Linked DNA regions of Homo sapiens: region 1 is linked to region 2. Evidence: fine-mapped expression QTL. Tissue or cell type: whole blood. Region 2 holds a variant in brackets; the other region holds the start of a gene. All regions are shown on one strand. Distances are from middle to middle.

Region 1 (8,169 bases), 32 kb before region 2:
AAGAAACAGGAAAATTTGATCCATACACAGGAAAAAAGGATGCAAGAGAAATTACATAACAGAGGGCTCGATGGCTGACTTTTTAATAAAGACTTTAGAGCAGTCATTAAAAGTATATTCAAAGAATCAAAGGAAACTCTGCGTAAAGATGTAAAGGAATGTATGGTGACAATAATTCATCAAATACAGAACACAAATAGCTAGAAATTATTTTTAAAAGAGCCAAATAGAAATTCTGGAGCTAAAAAGTAAAATAACAAATAAAAACATCACTTCATTGAGCACCTACTGTGTATCAAGTACTTATAGGTGCTGATGGTACATTAGTGAACAAACACACACCCATTCTCCCAGGTTTATCTTTAACAGTATGGGAAGTCTTAGCCTGGGAAATGAAGTAAGAGGGAAAGAAATAAAAGCGATAAGGACTGGAAAGGAAAAAGCAAACTATTATTACTACTGTTATTCACAGCTGCAGATATCATCTATATAGAAAGCCTAAAAGAATCAATAGAAAAATTATTATAAGAGTTTAAACAAGGGGACTGGATACTAAATAAATATATATAATTCAATTGCATTTTTATATATTGGAATCAAGCAGTTAGAAAATGTAAGGCAAAGATACTAAATACAATAGCCACACAAAAACATAAGACATATAAGAAAAATCTAACAAAAGACAAGTAAAAAGTTCAGGGAGAAAAATTATGAAACTTCAGTAAAGATGCTACAGGTGACTTAAAGAAATGTTTGTGGATAGAAATAATACAATAAAGATATTATTTTGGCCAGGCGCAGTGACTCATGCCTGTAATCCCACCACTTTGGGAGGCAGAAGCGGGTGGATCATTTGAGGTCAGGAGTTTGAGACTAGCCTGACCAACATGGTGAAACCTCAATCTCTACCAAAACTACAAAATTAGCTGGGTATGGTGGCACATGCCTGTGATCCAAGCTACTTGGGAGGCTGAGGTAGGAGAATCACTTGAACCCTGGAGGTGGAGGTTGCAGTGAGCTGAGATCGCGCCATTGCACTCCAGCCTGGGCAACAAGAATGAAACTCCATCTCAAAAAAAAAAAAAAAAAAAAAAAGATGTTATTCCTTCCCAAATTGACTTACAGATTTAATGTAATTCAATTGAAATCCCAATGGCGCTATCAGAGAAATTTGACAAGTCAAATTTAAAATTTATATGAAAAAGTGAAAATTCAAGAATAGTCAAGATACTCTGTAGTAATTAGTGTGGTGTTAGAGAAGTGAAATCTAAATGGAGCCTTGAAAGTAGATAACAACCCTAGGAGTAGACTGAAGCTGGAGCCGGCACTGAAGGTTCCTTCCTGTGCCAGGCTTAACCACTTCAGTTTTAGAGGCTGGGAGGTTGAGGGATTTGTGGCCTGGGGGGCCCAAGTGTTTGGGATGAGGGTAGTAAGGAGGCTTAGAGTGGTAACTGTTATACTAACAGTAATGGAAATACTGCACTATGGTTTGGTATTTTAATAACAGGTACAAAGCCATAGTTGTGTACTGTTTGCAATTAGCCATGCAACTTGACATATAACAGAAGTGAATTTTGGGAAAGGATGGACTTTTCAATAACAGATGCTGGAAAATTATACATACGGGAAATACATATACATACATATGGTTATACATATGGAAAAAAGTGAAATAGGATCCTTATACCATACATAGAAATAAATTTTTAGATGGATGACAGTAAATTAAAAGTGAAAGGTAATACTTTCAGAGTTTCTGAATAAAATTGCAGCAGACATGTTGGCAGTCTGTTCTGGTCTGAATGTCTCCCAAAATCAATGTGTTGAAACTTAATTAACAATGTGATAGCATTAAGAGGTAGGGCCTTAGCAGGTAATTAAGTCATGAGGACTCATGAATGGGATTAGTGATTTTATAAAAGGGCTGGAGGGAACTAGCTAGGCCTCTTTTGTCCTTCCGCTATTATGCCATGTGAGGACACGGCAACAAGGTGCCATCTTGAAAGCAGAGAGCAGCCCTCACCAGGCACGGAATCTGCCAGCACCTTGATCTTAGATTTCCCAGCCTCCCAGAACTGTGAGAAATAAATTTCTGTTGTTTGTAAGCTACCTATTCTATGGTATTTTGTTATAGCAGCAGAAATGAGCTAATACGTGGTCCAACAAAGACGTGTGCACCTCTTCCAGCGATTGAAACTATTGTTGGGGAGAGGTTGCCTAATTAGTGATGACGTTTCTCAGCCACCTTTGCACCTGAATGGGTCCATGTGACTGAGTTCTGGCCAATGGAATGTGGACTGAAATGGTGTATAACAGTGCTTCTCAAATTATCTGTTGTAATGAACCATTTCCCAAATGGTTCCCCCACTCTATCATGGGGGAAATAATGCATTTTGGCTCACTGCAACCTCTGCCTCCCAGGTTCAAGTGGTTCTCCTGCCCCAGCCTCCCAAGTAGCTGGGATTACAGGCACACGCCACTACGCCTAGCTAATTTTTGTGTTTTTATTAGAGACGGGGTTTCACTATTTTGGTCACGCTGGTCTCGAACTCTTGACCTGGTGATCCACCCACCTCAGCCTCCCAAATTGCTGGGATTACAGGCGTGAGCCACTGCGCCCAGCCAGTTGCAATACCATTTTCATAAAACTCAAAACCAACCACAACTAAAAAATATACCGTTTAAATATACATACATATGTGATAAAATATATACATGAGAAAGAGAAACAAAATTCAAGGTAGTTATTTATTTATTTTTTGAGATTCGGTCTCACTCCGTAGCCCAGGATGGAGTGCAGTGGCACGATCTCGGCTCACCACTGCAACCTCTGTCTCCTGTAACCACCATCTCCCAGGCTCAAATGATCCTCCCACCTCAGCCTCCCGAGTAGCTGGGACTACAGGTGTGCACCACCATGCCCGGCTAATTTTCACCATGTTTCCCAGGCTGGTCTCCAACTCTTGTGCTTAAGCAATCCTCTTGCTTTTGTCTCCCAAAGTGTTGGGATTTCAGGCGTGAGCCACCGTGCCCAACCAGTAGCTGTGATTAAAGTAGGGTACAGTCAAAGGAATAGGTCAGAGGAGGAAATCGCAGATTGATGTGAAGGCGTTGGTAATGTTCTGGTTCCTACACAGGTGAAAGGTGTACAGGTGTTTAACTGCTATGCTTTTTATCTCACACATCGCATAAATTTTTCTGTGACATAAAATATTACATAACATTTAAAAAACAGGTCAAGAGGGCAGGGTGCAGTGGCTCACGTCTGTAATCCCAACACTTTGGGAGGCCGAGGGGAGCGGATCACCTGAGGTTAGCAGTTCGAGACCAGCCTGGCCAACATGGTGAAACCCTGTCTCTACTAAAAATACAAACAAAACAAAACAAAACAAAATCCGGTTGGAGTGGTGCATGCCTGTAATCCCAGCTACTCGGGAGGCTGAGGCAGGAGAATCGCTTGAACTCGGGAGGCGGAAGTTGCAGTGAACCGAGACCGCGCCACTGAACTCCGGCCTGGGCAACAAGAGCGAAACTCCGTCTCAAAACAAAAAACAAACAAATCCAAACAAACAAACAAACAAACAAAAACAGGTCAAGGATCAGAAAAGTAAAGTGAGTTGACACTCCATTTACACACAGAAAGCCCAATGTTTTTCTATTATATCAGGATACCTCTTCTAAAGAATGATAGCTTACCTTTCAATCAGAGAAATGATCTAAAGTTCAAAATGTTACTCCATAGCTAGCTCCTGGAGGAAGGAAGCTAGGTGGCAGCGTGTACACAAAAAGGCAATTCATCCAAATAATAATATAACAAGAATATAACAAGTAGGTATTTTCTGCTAAGTGCTATGTAGCACAGGGGTGAATGCGTGGCAGGGCAGGAGGAGGGCTGTTTACAAGAGGGTATGAAATGCAGCTCTTCTTTTCAAGAGTGGTTGCAGAATGCCAGGGCTACAAAGAGAGGGCCGCACATTAAGCATCGTATTATGTGGGTACAGAGTATTAGGGTTCTCGATGACCAGAAGGAGAATGAGTGCAGTTTGTTTCCTAGCAAGCCTTCTTTAGCTTCTCTTCCCAAGTGGGAGTGGGGTTGGGGTTGGGACTGTTCTTTCCTAGCTCAAAAGTTCACTTATGTCACACTAGGGTCAGTTTAAAGGAGAGTGCTAGTAAGGGTAAAGTCAAGTTACATAACCTAGCGGAAAATGAAGACCTAAAACCGCTCGTGAGCAAACACAACACTTTAGACGTAAACCTCTTCCAAAGAAGGGTGGATCTCAGCACTCTGGGTGAAAGCAATCTCAGCCAGTAAAACATCAGAACGCTTTCACGCACGCGCAGTAAGCACACGACCGGTGGCAAGAGCCCGGATAAAGGCGGAGCTAAAGGTGCCGGATAATGCATCACGGAGCGCGTGTGCGCACGCCGTAGGGGGCGGGCCGTTCGGGCTTGGTTTCCTGGGCGACCACCGCTGGCTAGTCCGTTAGAGGCGTGCGGGCTTCGGAGGCGTGCGGGCTTCGGGTGCCATGGGGACTCCTCCCGGCCTGCAGACCGACTGCGAGGCGCTGCTCAGCCGCTTCCAGGAGACGGACAGTGTACGCTTCGAGGACTTCACGGAGCTCTGGAGAAACATGAAGTTCGGGACTATCTTCTGGTGGGTGTTTCTTGTCCACCACCCGCCTCTCCCTGCCCGCAGGTGGTGTAGAAAGTTGCCTCCTTCCCGGCGATATTGCACTTGTGAAGGGCTGAGAAGAGCGGCAGTCACCGAAGGTTGCCTCCATGACTCCTGGACCTTCCCCTGTGCTCAGGCAACGCGCTTTCCCTGCTCTATTTCATTGTGCCCTGATGGTTGTTGCGGCCTCCTCCCAAATATGCGTCTCTGCCTGGCCTCCCTTCTAAACTCCTCTCTCCCATCTCCACCCTGAGCCAGGCCACTATCATTTGCCCTTCCCCAGTCTTGTTCTAGGACCTGATGTTTAAAAACACACAAGCAAAGACAAAACCCTTCAAGATTGAATTAATTTTTCCTCCAACAACCAAAGTTGTCTTTTTTTTTTTTTTTTTTTTTTTTTTTGAGACGGAGTCTCCTTTTGTCGCCCAGGCTGGAGTGCAATGGCGCGTTCGCGGCTCAGTGCAACCCTTCGCCTCTCAGGTTCAAGTGATTCTCTTGCCTCAACCTCCGGAGTAGCTGGGATTACAGGTGCCCGGCACCACGCCCGGTTAATTTTTTGTATTTTTAGTAGAGACGGGGTTTTACTATGTTGGCCAGACTGGCCTCGAACTCCTGATCTCGTGACCCGCCCGCCTCGGCCTCCCAAAGCGCTAGGATTACAGGAGTGAGCCACCGCGCCCGGCCCAAAAGTTGTTTTTCAAAAGTGCAAATTTGATTATGTCACTCCCCGACTTATTACTCTGTAGTGGTGCCCATTGCCTTTGGGATAACGCTTGAATTCTCTGACTTGCCAAGACCATTCCTCACTGGCCTTTGCCTATCTCTCCAGCTTCGCCTGCCAGTCCCCTCCATGCACTCACTTTCTTGCTCCAGCAGCTGCTTTTTTTTTTTTTTTTTTTTCTTTGGGCCCTCTACAGGCTTTTCCTAATCCTGGAGTTTCCACCGCAACTCTCTTGTTTTGTCCACCTTATTCTTCACTCAGGGTTAAGCTCAAATGACATCCTCGGGGGAAGTCTTTTTTGCTCTTCTAGACTGAGTACGCTGTTCATGTTTTTTCCCCGCATAGCACCCTGTTTTTATTTTATGTCACCGCTTTCCACATTTTGTTGTAATGGTATAGTTGAAAAGGCAGTGTGGGATTGTTAAGGGCATAGGTTATGGAACCCAATTGGCTGCATTTGATTGCAGGGTCCGCTATGACTTGGGGCAAGTTACTTGAGTTTCCATATCTGTAAAATAGAGGCAATGATAAACCTCATAGTAGTTGTGAAGATTAAATGAGCTGATATATCAGAAATACATTCTAAGTGCTCAATAAATGTTCATTATTATTATTTTTTTTTCTTGAGACATAGTCTTGCTCTGTCACCCAGGCTGGAGTGTAATGGTGCGATCTCCTATCACTGCAACCTCCACCTCCCGGGTTCAAGAGATTCTCCTGCCTCAGCCTCCCGAGTAGCTGGGACTACGGCTTGTGCCACCAAGCCTGGCTAATTTTTGTATTTTTAGTAGAGACGGGATTTCACCATGTTGGCCAGGCTGGTCAAATGTTCATTATTACTACCGTTTTAAAATTTTCCTTTGACTAGACTGACCTCTGTGAGGACAGTGACTGGATGAATCTATTTTTATTACCATAGTACATATAATATTAAAAAGGCGAAATAACTGATTTTCTGAATGAGTTAAACCTTATGATTAAAACTTTTTCTGAACAAAATGTAAAAACTCATTTTCTCTCTGTCAGTGTAAGCAAATTACCTTTGTAGTTTTTTAAATTGCAAGGAATGGAGGATGAAGAGCTGTTTGTTGTACAGTTAATAAAAGGAGAGAGACTTTTTTTTTTAAATGGCTACTACATGCCATTTATTTATAGCTTTATTTATTGCATAAGACAGTTATAAAAAGCAGGTATAATTATCCTTGTTTTATAGATGAGGAAATTAAGGCTTAAAGAGGTTAAGTAATTTCTCCACCATTACAAAGATAGTGGATTGTAGAGCAGATGTTGGAAACTATGTATCTGCCTGTTTCTAAAATCCGTTAATATTCCACTGTACCACTTCTTGGGGGGAAAAATGCATTTAAGGAAAAAGCTAAAAATGTAACATTTACATTTTCTAGTAGGGAGAACCTAAAATGATAAAAGAAGCAGGAATCACTAGAGTGGTGGATTTTCTTGAGAAATTACTTTGGTTACCGTAACTAGAGTAGGCATTTTGTATTCTTTTCCTATATTTATTATTTGAAGACCCAAAATGTCCTCCTACTACCCCCTTCCCTTCCACCCCTGCATTGTAATCAGATATAATAGAGCCCGTGTTTATGGCTGCAGGGCAAATGTCTTTATTGTTTGTTGCTGGTTTTAAAGTAAAAGTTCTACATATTTATATTTGTATAGCGTATTAGTCACTCGCATCAACACTTTGAGACATTTATTTTAGCTAATGTTTTATTTAAAATCTGGCATTTTTTATCTACTAATTTCAGGTCTTACATAGAAACCTATAATATGCACAAATGTGGCTTCATTGTTTTATCCAAAGTGGTAAGAAGACTGTTACATTGACTTTTTTAAGGCCTTGTTTTTTAAAATTTTTTGTTAACTTAGCACAGCAGAACAGTTTCAGATAGTTTATTCATTATGCTGTTTATATCCACAGAAAATATATGTGAACCTCGAAAATTTGAGACACGTCTCAGTTAATTTAGAAAGGTTATTTTGCCAAGGTTGAGGACGCACCCGTGACACAGCCTCAGGAAGTCGTGTTGACATGCGCCCAAGGTGGTCAGGGCACAGCTTGGTTTTGTACATTTAGGGAGACATGAGACATCAATCAATATATGCAAGAAGTACGTTGGTTCGTTCTGGAAAGGCGGGACAACTTGAAGCAAAGGCAGGAAGACTGGAAGTGGGGAGGGAGCTTTCAGGTCACAGATTGGTGATACACAAATGCTTGCGTTCTTTTGAGTTTCTGATTAGCTTTTCCAAAGGAGGCAAATCAGATATGCATCTATCTCAGTGAGCCGAGAAGTCACTTTGAATAGAATGGGAGAGGTTTGCCCTAAGCAGTTTCCAGCTTGAGTTTTCCTTAGTGATCTTGGGTGCCCAAGATACTTTCCTTTCATGTACATTTCCTATGTTATTTCATTGATTGATTGCCAACAAAGCCTTGTTGCTCTCTTGGATGTTTGGACAAAGCTTTTGGTTGTATGCTGGAGTATGCTCTTCTCCCTTCCTCCTCCTTTCTTCTGATGAGCTTGCAGTGCTCTGGACAATTAGGAGTGCGGGTTACTTTGTGCTGTTTCTCTATCTTTTTCGCCTCGGCTTCGCAAGGACAGAGGAGATTTAGTGCAAATCCCTGAGAGTATTGGAGAAAATGTTCGTTAGGTAAAAAGTAAAGTAGAGGTTCTGCTTCAAAGAGTTTCCTCCCCATCTAATTAAGACTAAATAGTAACTTATCTTAGAAGCAAAATTTATTCAAAGACCTATGCTA
Region 2 (8,165 bases):
AGTATTACCAGTGGTTAATTTTCAAGGATAGTATAATGAGAAACTACCCATAAATGTCTGTAACGTTTGGATTTTGTATAACCAAGTGTTACTTTAGTAATCAGTAGAAATCCAAAGACCTTTTTACAAATAAGGTAAACATAATTTCATAGACTCAGACAAGTAGAGGGGCTGGTGTGAAAAAGGCAAAGTAGCTGGGAAGTATAGAGTGAGGGGTCCATTTAGGCTGGATTGTAAAGGGGATATGTTGGGGAGTTAAATGTTAAAAGTGCTGGAAAAATATGTTGAGGATTGTATTGTGACCAGGCCTTAAATGTGGAATCAAGAAGTTTACACTTCAATTGGTAGGCAGAGGGGGAGTCAGCTGAAACTTTTGAGCAAGAAAGTGGCATGCCCAAAGTTTTCCTTGAAGAAAATCAGTCTGGGAGTAGAATGGTAGGTAGCTGGGAACAAACTGAAAATAGGAACACTAAGTAGAGGGCTGTTGCGGTAGTTCAGATTTAGGAGTAACGAGCGTGTGCCACATGGTTGTAGGAATTAGAGAAGCAAGGCTAACAGACATAAGAGCAAATACGGAGACTAGTGGAGAGGGGTGAGACAAGAATGCTTAATGTCTGAGCACCTGGGAGGATATTTGTGTCCTTGCTGGAGAAATACAATGACACAATAAAGATTTCATTGGGGGGAGAATTCGCTCCAGTCCGCCTTGCCAGACTGATTTCTGTAATAATTGCTTGGTGTATTAATGGGTGCTCAGTATATTGATGGAATTTACTTAAGCTTATGTTATTTAAGCTTTAATTATGTGCTCACCATTCCTCGAATATAACATGCATGTTGACAGGACATCAGTAATACCAGTGCTATGATGGATGAAGATGATAGCAACTACTATTTATTAACACTTTTTTTTGAGATGGAGTGTTGCTCTGTCACCCAGGCTGGAGTGCAGTGGCACGATCTCGGCTCACTGCAACCTCCACCTCCTGGGTTCAAGCGATTCTTCTGCCTCAGCCTCCCCACTAGCTGTGATTACAGGCGCTCGCCACCACGCCTGGCTGATTTTTGTATTTTTAGTAGAGACGGAGTCTTAACCATGTTGGCCAGGTTGGTCTCGAACTCCTGACGTTAAATAATCCACCCACCTCAGCCTCCTAAAGTGCTGAGATTACAGGCGCAAGCCACCGCACCCGGCTATGTAACACTTTTTATCTGACCAACTTTTTCTCACATGTCCAAGACCTTCTAGATAATACATAGCAGAACTGAGACTGGAACGAGTCTGTCTGAATCCAAGCCTGATTCTTTAACTGTCATACTGTGCTACCTCCCAGGTCACTGGAGGTGTGGATCTGGAGCTCAGATTAGACATACACTTAAGTAAATTTGTTGTTAGTTGCATTCTAGCTGCCTGACTAGTAATCATTTGTTTGGATAATCAGTAGTGGTCTATTACTGATCATTGCACCCCACACATTTAGCTTTGAGCATAGTAAAACTGCCCACCTGAGACCTTCTAGGGAGTTAGTTTTATGGATAATTGAGGTTAATGATTACAATGTTGAAATTTACTTTTTTGTTCCCTCCCGAGATGGAGTCTTGCTCTGTCGCCCAGAGCTGGAGTGCAGTGGCGCGATCTCGGCTCACTGCAACCTCCGCCTCCTGGGTTCAAGCAATTCTCCTGCCTCAGTCTCCCGGGTAGCTGGGATTACAGGCACCCACCACCATGCCCAGCTAATTTTTGTATTTTTAGTAGAAGCAGGGTTTCACCATGTTGGCCAGACTGGTCTCGAACTCCTGACCTTGTGATCCACCCACCTCAGCCTCCTAAAGTGCTGGGATTACAGGCATGAGCCACCACCCCCAGCCAAAATTTACTTTTTAAAAATTTAATTATTTTTTGCTATCTTTCTCAAATATATTGCATTCTCTTTTATATGTTTCCTTTTTTCTACATTTATCATTTTTGTAATTATAAATACATTAAAGTCAAATATATTTTATGCTCTTATTTTCTGGAACACTGTATCCTTAACATAATTTAATTTTCTCCTGACAAGTCATGGTCACCATCATGAGGATTATGTTACTGGGTTTTATAATGTAATGATTCTATCAAGAAATAGGCCGGGCACGGTGGCTCACGCCTGTAATCCCAGCAGTTTGGGAGGTTGAGGCAGGTGGATCACTTGAGGTCAGGAGTTTGAAACCAGCCTGGCCAGCATGGTGGAACCCCCATCTCTACTACAAATACAGAAATTAGCTGAGCGTGATGGCATTCACCTGTAGTCCCAGCTACTCAGGAGGCTGAGGCATGAGAATCATTTAAGCCTGGGAGGCGGAGGTTGCAGTGAGCTGGGATTACGCCACTGTACTCCAGCCTGGGCTACAGAGAGACTCTGTCTCAAAAAAAAAAATAGCTTAAGTGTGCGGCAGTTTATATTAAATGGCTTCATGCCACAATGCTTTGTTCTTATGTCTTTTTAAAAAAAGAAAATAGTGTTTCTGTTACACTTATTGTAGTGAACATCTTTCTGTTCTCAGTGTGCAGGCTCAGGAGGCAGAGGCAGGAGAATTGCTTGAACCCAGGAGGCAGAGGTTGCAATGAGCCAAGATCGCGCCACTGCACTGCAGCCTGGGTGACAGAGTGAGACTCCATTAAAAAAGAAAAAAAAAAAAAAGCAAGATATAACATATCAAATGATAAAAGTGTTGGGGCAAAGAAAAACAGCATAAAAAATAGTCACTGTTTATGGGGGTTGCTTTTGGGACATGGAAATTGTGTGCTAAATGGTACTTGATATGACAATGGTATCTGATAAATTTGGTTGGGATACTTCTTCAGGTAACAGAAGGTTGATGTAGAGAACCTCTAGTGTTTTTGAAAATGGAAAGTCAATCGCAAATTATGACTAGAGGAATATATCTTGTAGAGCATATGTGGTGAGAAAAGAAAGTATGTTCACATCCAAAAGTAAGGCTGTTAAACTCAAAAATTACATTTGTAATTAATTTAATAAAGTTGAAGTAACATATGTGATTATTCTTTGATGGCTGCAGATATAACCCCTGTCATGTGTGGTAAAGATTAAATATGGTATTTGTGTTTGGCTAATTTTGTTTATTCCTTTTTTCTCTGTTTTCTCTAGTGGAAGAACTAGAGACTATTTTCAAAGTATAAATACAAATATGTTAGTATTTGAAAAAATATAGGTATTCTAGAATGCGTATTTCTGTTACCATTACAGTTTCAGTTTTTACATGTCTAATTTTTATGCTGTAATAATGACAGTTTTTGTAAAATGTTTTCTCAAAGATTATAATATTCTTTGCTTTCATATAAAATCATTTTCTAAATATTTCTAGGCAATGTGCAGAATATACACAAGGAAGATAAACCTT[TA/T]AGTCTGAGTATGCCTGTAATTACAGAAGAAGAAGAGAATGAAAGTTTGAGTGGAACAGGTACAGATAAAATTTGGTCAAACTAGTCAAGTAAACTAACTTATACTCGTAGAGCATCAAGGTTTAGAACCCTTGAGGAACATGACAGTTTGCTGTGTGTTCTTGTGATCCTTTCATCTTTGACCCATTGGAGAATTTCAGTATTAGTCATATCATTAATGACATCTCAAAGTCAGGGATAATACAATAAATGAATGGTATGGATACCCATTAGGTATCCTATCAGTTTCATCTTTGTAGAGATGTCTCTGTCAGACCTCTGACCTGCTTTCATCTGGACAGTGTTCCAGTACTTCTAATCCTGACTGCTGCTCTCTTCCAGGAATTTGTTTTCTTTATTTTTTTTTCATGAGACAGGGTCTTGCTGGGTTGCCCAGGCTGGAGTGCGGTGACTTGATCACAGTGACTTACTACAGCTTCGACCTCCCCGGCTCAGGCTATCCTCCCCTCCCGCCTCAGCCTCTTGAGTCACTGGGACTGAAGGCACATGCCACCATGCCTGGCTAATTTTTGTATTTTTTGTAGAGACAGGGTCTCACTGTGTTGCCTAGGCTGGTCTCAAACTCCTGGGCTCAAGTGATCCACTTGCCTCAGCCTTCCAAAGTACTGGGATTACAGGCATGAGCCACCGTGCCTGGCCTAGGAATTTGTTTTCATCTTAATTTGTTTTTTTTACTTGTCTTTTCTCTTTTTCTTTTTCTGCCATTTCCCTTTTGTTTTTCACTGGTGGGGAATATTTTTTTTTCTTTTCTTTTTTTCTTTTTTTTTTTTTGAGACAGAGTCTTGCTCTGTCACCCAGGCTGGAGTGCAATGGCGTGATCTCAGCTCACTGCAAACACCATCTCCCAGGTTCACGCGATTCTCCTGCCTCAGCCTCCCAAGTAGCTGGGATTACAGGCACTCACCATCATGCCCGGCTCATTTTTGTATTTTTGTAGAGATGGGGTTTCACCGTGTTGGGCAGGCTGGTCTTGAACTCCTGACCTTAAGTGATCCGCTTGCCTTGGCTTCCCAAAGTGCTGGGATTACAGGTGGGAGCCACTGCACCCGGCCGGAATATTTCTTTTTGCCACATCTTTTGTAATTTTCATGTTTTTGTGTTTTCTATTACTTTCTTTGCTTTTAATGATCAGTAAACTTTAGGTTCGTGCTGTTTCTAGATGGACAATTATTCGAGTGTTGGTTCTGGCATCTCCTGTGGTAGCCAGAATGATGTGTGGTACTGGTGTTTTGGGTTACATTTCTAGGTTTAATTGAAATGAAATTGAAATCTTAGTCATTTTCTTCTTCTTAGTACTGGCCTAAATACCTTTGAGATCTAGTACCCTGGGTTCATATAATTATAGGGAGGGTGTACCCATATGAAACAACTTCACAGTAACTTATTATTAATTAGGATTTAGAATGACTAAGGGCCACTATCTCAATAGATTGATATTGCAATAGGATTGAGATCTTACTACCTTAATGGAGGTAGTATTTTTTGTTGTTATGTGTTTTTTTTGTTTGTTTGTTTGTTTTGAGATGGAGTCTCGCTCTGTCGTCCAGGCTGGAGTGCAGTGGCACGATCTTGGCTCACTGCAACCTCCACCTCCTGGGTTCAAGCAATTCTCCTGCTTCAGCCTCCTGAGTAGCTGGTACTATAGACATGTACCACCACGCCCGGCTAATTTTTTGTATTTATTTTAGTAGAGATGGGGTTTCACCATGTTAGCCAGGATGGTCTCGATCCCCTGACCTCATGATTCGCCCACCTTAGCCTCCCAGAGTGCTGGGATTATAGGCGTGAGCCACTGCACCTGGCCGATAGTATGTTTTAAACTGCTGTATCATTTTGAAGAAAAAATTCTTGAATATGTCAGGTTTAAGATTTTTTTGTTGTGTCTTTGCTGTGAGGGCATTCTTATTGTGTTGTACCAGTTAGACGTCTATGTAGTTGAAATGTGTATTATCAATTAGGTATTATCATGTAAGTGTCAGTTGTTTTTTTTGTTTGTTTTTTTTTTGTTTTTAGATCTGACTGACTTTTAAACTTTATGTCTTTAGAGTTCACTGCATCCAAGAAGAGGAGAAAACACTGAACAAAGAGCCTGGTGTAGTTTTTAATTTTGAGTTTTCTGACAGAAGAAAAGATTGATATTTTGTGTATTGAACAGGAAGACTGCCAGTATTAAAAAAATCCTTCTGGGAATCTGTAGGTTATTTCTTGGAAATTGCAATACGTAGTTCTAGAATAAAAGTACAAAAAATTAGAATAAGAATTCTTTAACATTTTCTTTAATGATTTGCATAAATGGAGATAAAACTTGTATTTAGTATGTAATAGAAAAAATTCTGTTATTCGCAGATTGTTACTATTTCCTATAAGGTTTTGTGATACTATACTGTCCTAATACAGTCTGGTAATACTATTCTATTTTATTTAAAATATTTTTTATTGAAATATTAATGTTTATTACATGCAAATAACTATTTTGTATCTACAGTCGGATAATGGATTTTTTATTTTGTATATTTATTCTATTTTGTATATTGTTAAGTGCAATAAAGTTTTTGCCTTGCTTTATTTTTTAATACATAAAACTTACATTCTCATAACGTGATTGATAACTTAGGAAGTTCACAATGTATTTTCTACTTCTGCAATTAAATATTCTTTAGTGCTTGTTTATTATTACTAAATACTAATTAAGTACTAACAAGTACTTAAATACTAATGTATTAAGTATTTAAGTACTTTCTAATAAAATCTTTAACAATAATAATGTAAATTTCAGAATGTGTCTCTGGTACAGAATAGTTGATATTAACAGAAAAAAAAAAATCTGTAGCTTCATGAATATGCCACTCTGTTAATTTCTTGTTCCAGACATTTTAATAGAGATTGCTTGAGCCATGTTGTTTGAATTGCTGCCAATAGCAGACCATATCCCTATCATGTTGTTGGCTCAACTGTTTTTTTTTTTTCCCTAATAGAGATGGAGTATCGCTATGTTGCTCAGGCTGGTCTTGAACTCCTGGGCTCAAGCTATCCTCCTGCCTCAGCCTCCCAAAGTACTGGGATTATAGGTGTGAGCTACTGTACCCAGCCTTAACCTGTTTCACAGTTGATTATACTTCATGCTGTTTTCCAGCATGGTATTATTAAGGGATTTAAAGTTTGGGTTGCATGCCTGTAATCCCAGCATTTTGGGAGGCCGAGGTGGGCGGATCACGAGGTCAGGAGATCGAGACCATCGTGACTAACACAGTGAAACCCCGTCTCTAATAAAAATACGAAAAATTAGCCAGGCGTGGTGGCGGGCGCCTGTAATCCCAGCTACTCGGGAAGCTGAGGCAGGAGAATGGTGTGAACCCAGTGAGCCGAGATCGTGCCACTGCACTCCAGCCTGGGCAACAGAGTGAGACTTCGTCTCAAAAAAAAAAAAAAGTTTGGGTTGAAGATCAAATTCGTGATATCTCTATATCTAATCTTTAAAAATCAGAATGCTAATGCTGACGCAAATAAAATTTTCATTTATTAGCATTCATGCAGTCACAATTGTTTCCTTTGATTCCTTTGACTTCAAATATATTTGGTCATAGAGGGGGCAGTTTTCATAATGTAGACATTAGGTGGAGCATCTTGGATTTAAACATTCTAGGGTTGGGGTGTAGATCCATTATTGGCCCCACTTGATATACTAGGTTGTTTGCCAGAACTTGTCTGACTGTTAAAAGTTTATAGACATTGTACAGCTAACACACTGAGTTGCCCTCTCTTTTTTCATAACTGTACTTATAAAATACATGCTATTGTTTCACTTGTACCTCAAGATGGTTAGTGCCCTGCCCCCATTCACAAAGTTAGTAAGTCATGCTTCTGAGTTATAAACACAGGGCTCAGTCTTATAATTTCAGTTTTTTTAAATAAGCCAACACGTGGAAATCCAGAAAGATACTTTTTTAACTATAAGCAGTAAAACTCCACTTCAAAATGGCTTAAACGAGAAGGAAAATTTATTAAAATCAGGTGAGTTCCAACAAAGGCTGGCTCTGGCTTATATAGTACATCAGTTCCGTGATGGCTTCATATACCTAGGTTTCCGTTTTTTCCTTTTTTTTTTTTTTTTTTTTTTTTTTTTTTGAGACGGTTTTGCTCTGTCACCCAGGCTGGAGAGCAGTGATGTGATCCTGGTTCACTGCAGCCTCAATCTCCTGAGATCAAGCTATCTTGCCACCTCAGCCTCTTGAGTAGCTGAGTCTACAGGTGTGTGACCACATGCTTGGCTAATTTTTTTTTTTTTTTTTTTTGATACAGAGTCTCCCTCTGTCACCCAGGATGGAGTGCAGTGACATGATCCTGGCTCACTGCAACCTCCGCCTCCCGGGTTCAAGCGATTCTTCTGTCTCAGCCTCCCGAGTAGCTGGGATTACAGGCATGCATTACCATGCCCGGCTTTTATATTTTTAGTAGAGATGGGGTTTCACTATGTTGGCCAGGCTGGTCTCAAACTCCTGACTTCAAGCGATCTACCTGCCTTGGCCTCCCAAAGTGCTGGGATTACAGGAGTGCACCACCGCACCCGGCCGCAATAGTGAGTTTTTCATGAGTATATGTTGAAGATAAGGTATGAATCAGTTGATAGACTTGCTTTAAATATGAAATTGAAGTTCATTGAACAGAGTTCAATCTGTGTTTTACAGTGAGTTTTCAAAATTAA

What was found. PIP is the estimated chance that this variant, and not a neighbour inherited with it, causes the effect.
Region 1: SNAPC1 starts here. The variant in region 2 is fine-mapped to the expression of SNAPC1 in whole blood (TOPMed, PIP above 0.99).

The regions. Positions count from the first base shown.
Region 1 is chr14:61,757,935-61,766,103 of GRCh38, forward strand. SNAPC1 (small nuclear RNA activating complex polypeptide 1) reads left to right here and starts at 4,486. Exons shown (of 10, transcript NM_003082.4): 1 at 4,486-4,654. The coding sequence starts at 4,527. RefSeq lists enhancers at 2,480-3,224, 3,225-3,968, 3,812-3,901, 3,969-4,712, 4,713-5,456.
Region 2 is chr14:61,789,441-61,797,605 of GRCh38, forward strand. It overlaps SNAPC1 (small nuclear RNA activating complex polypeptide 1), which reads left to right. Exons shown (of 10, transcript NM_003082.4): 9 at 3,367-3,462; 10 at 5,509-6,988. The coding sequence ends at 5,543. Among named protein-coding and RNA genes, the nearest start is that of SYT16, 19 kb to the right of the region's middle. The variant TA/T (reference allele first, on the strand shown) is at 3,403.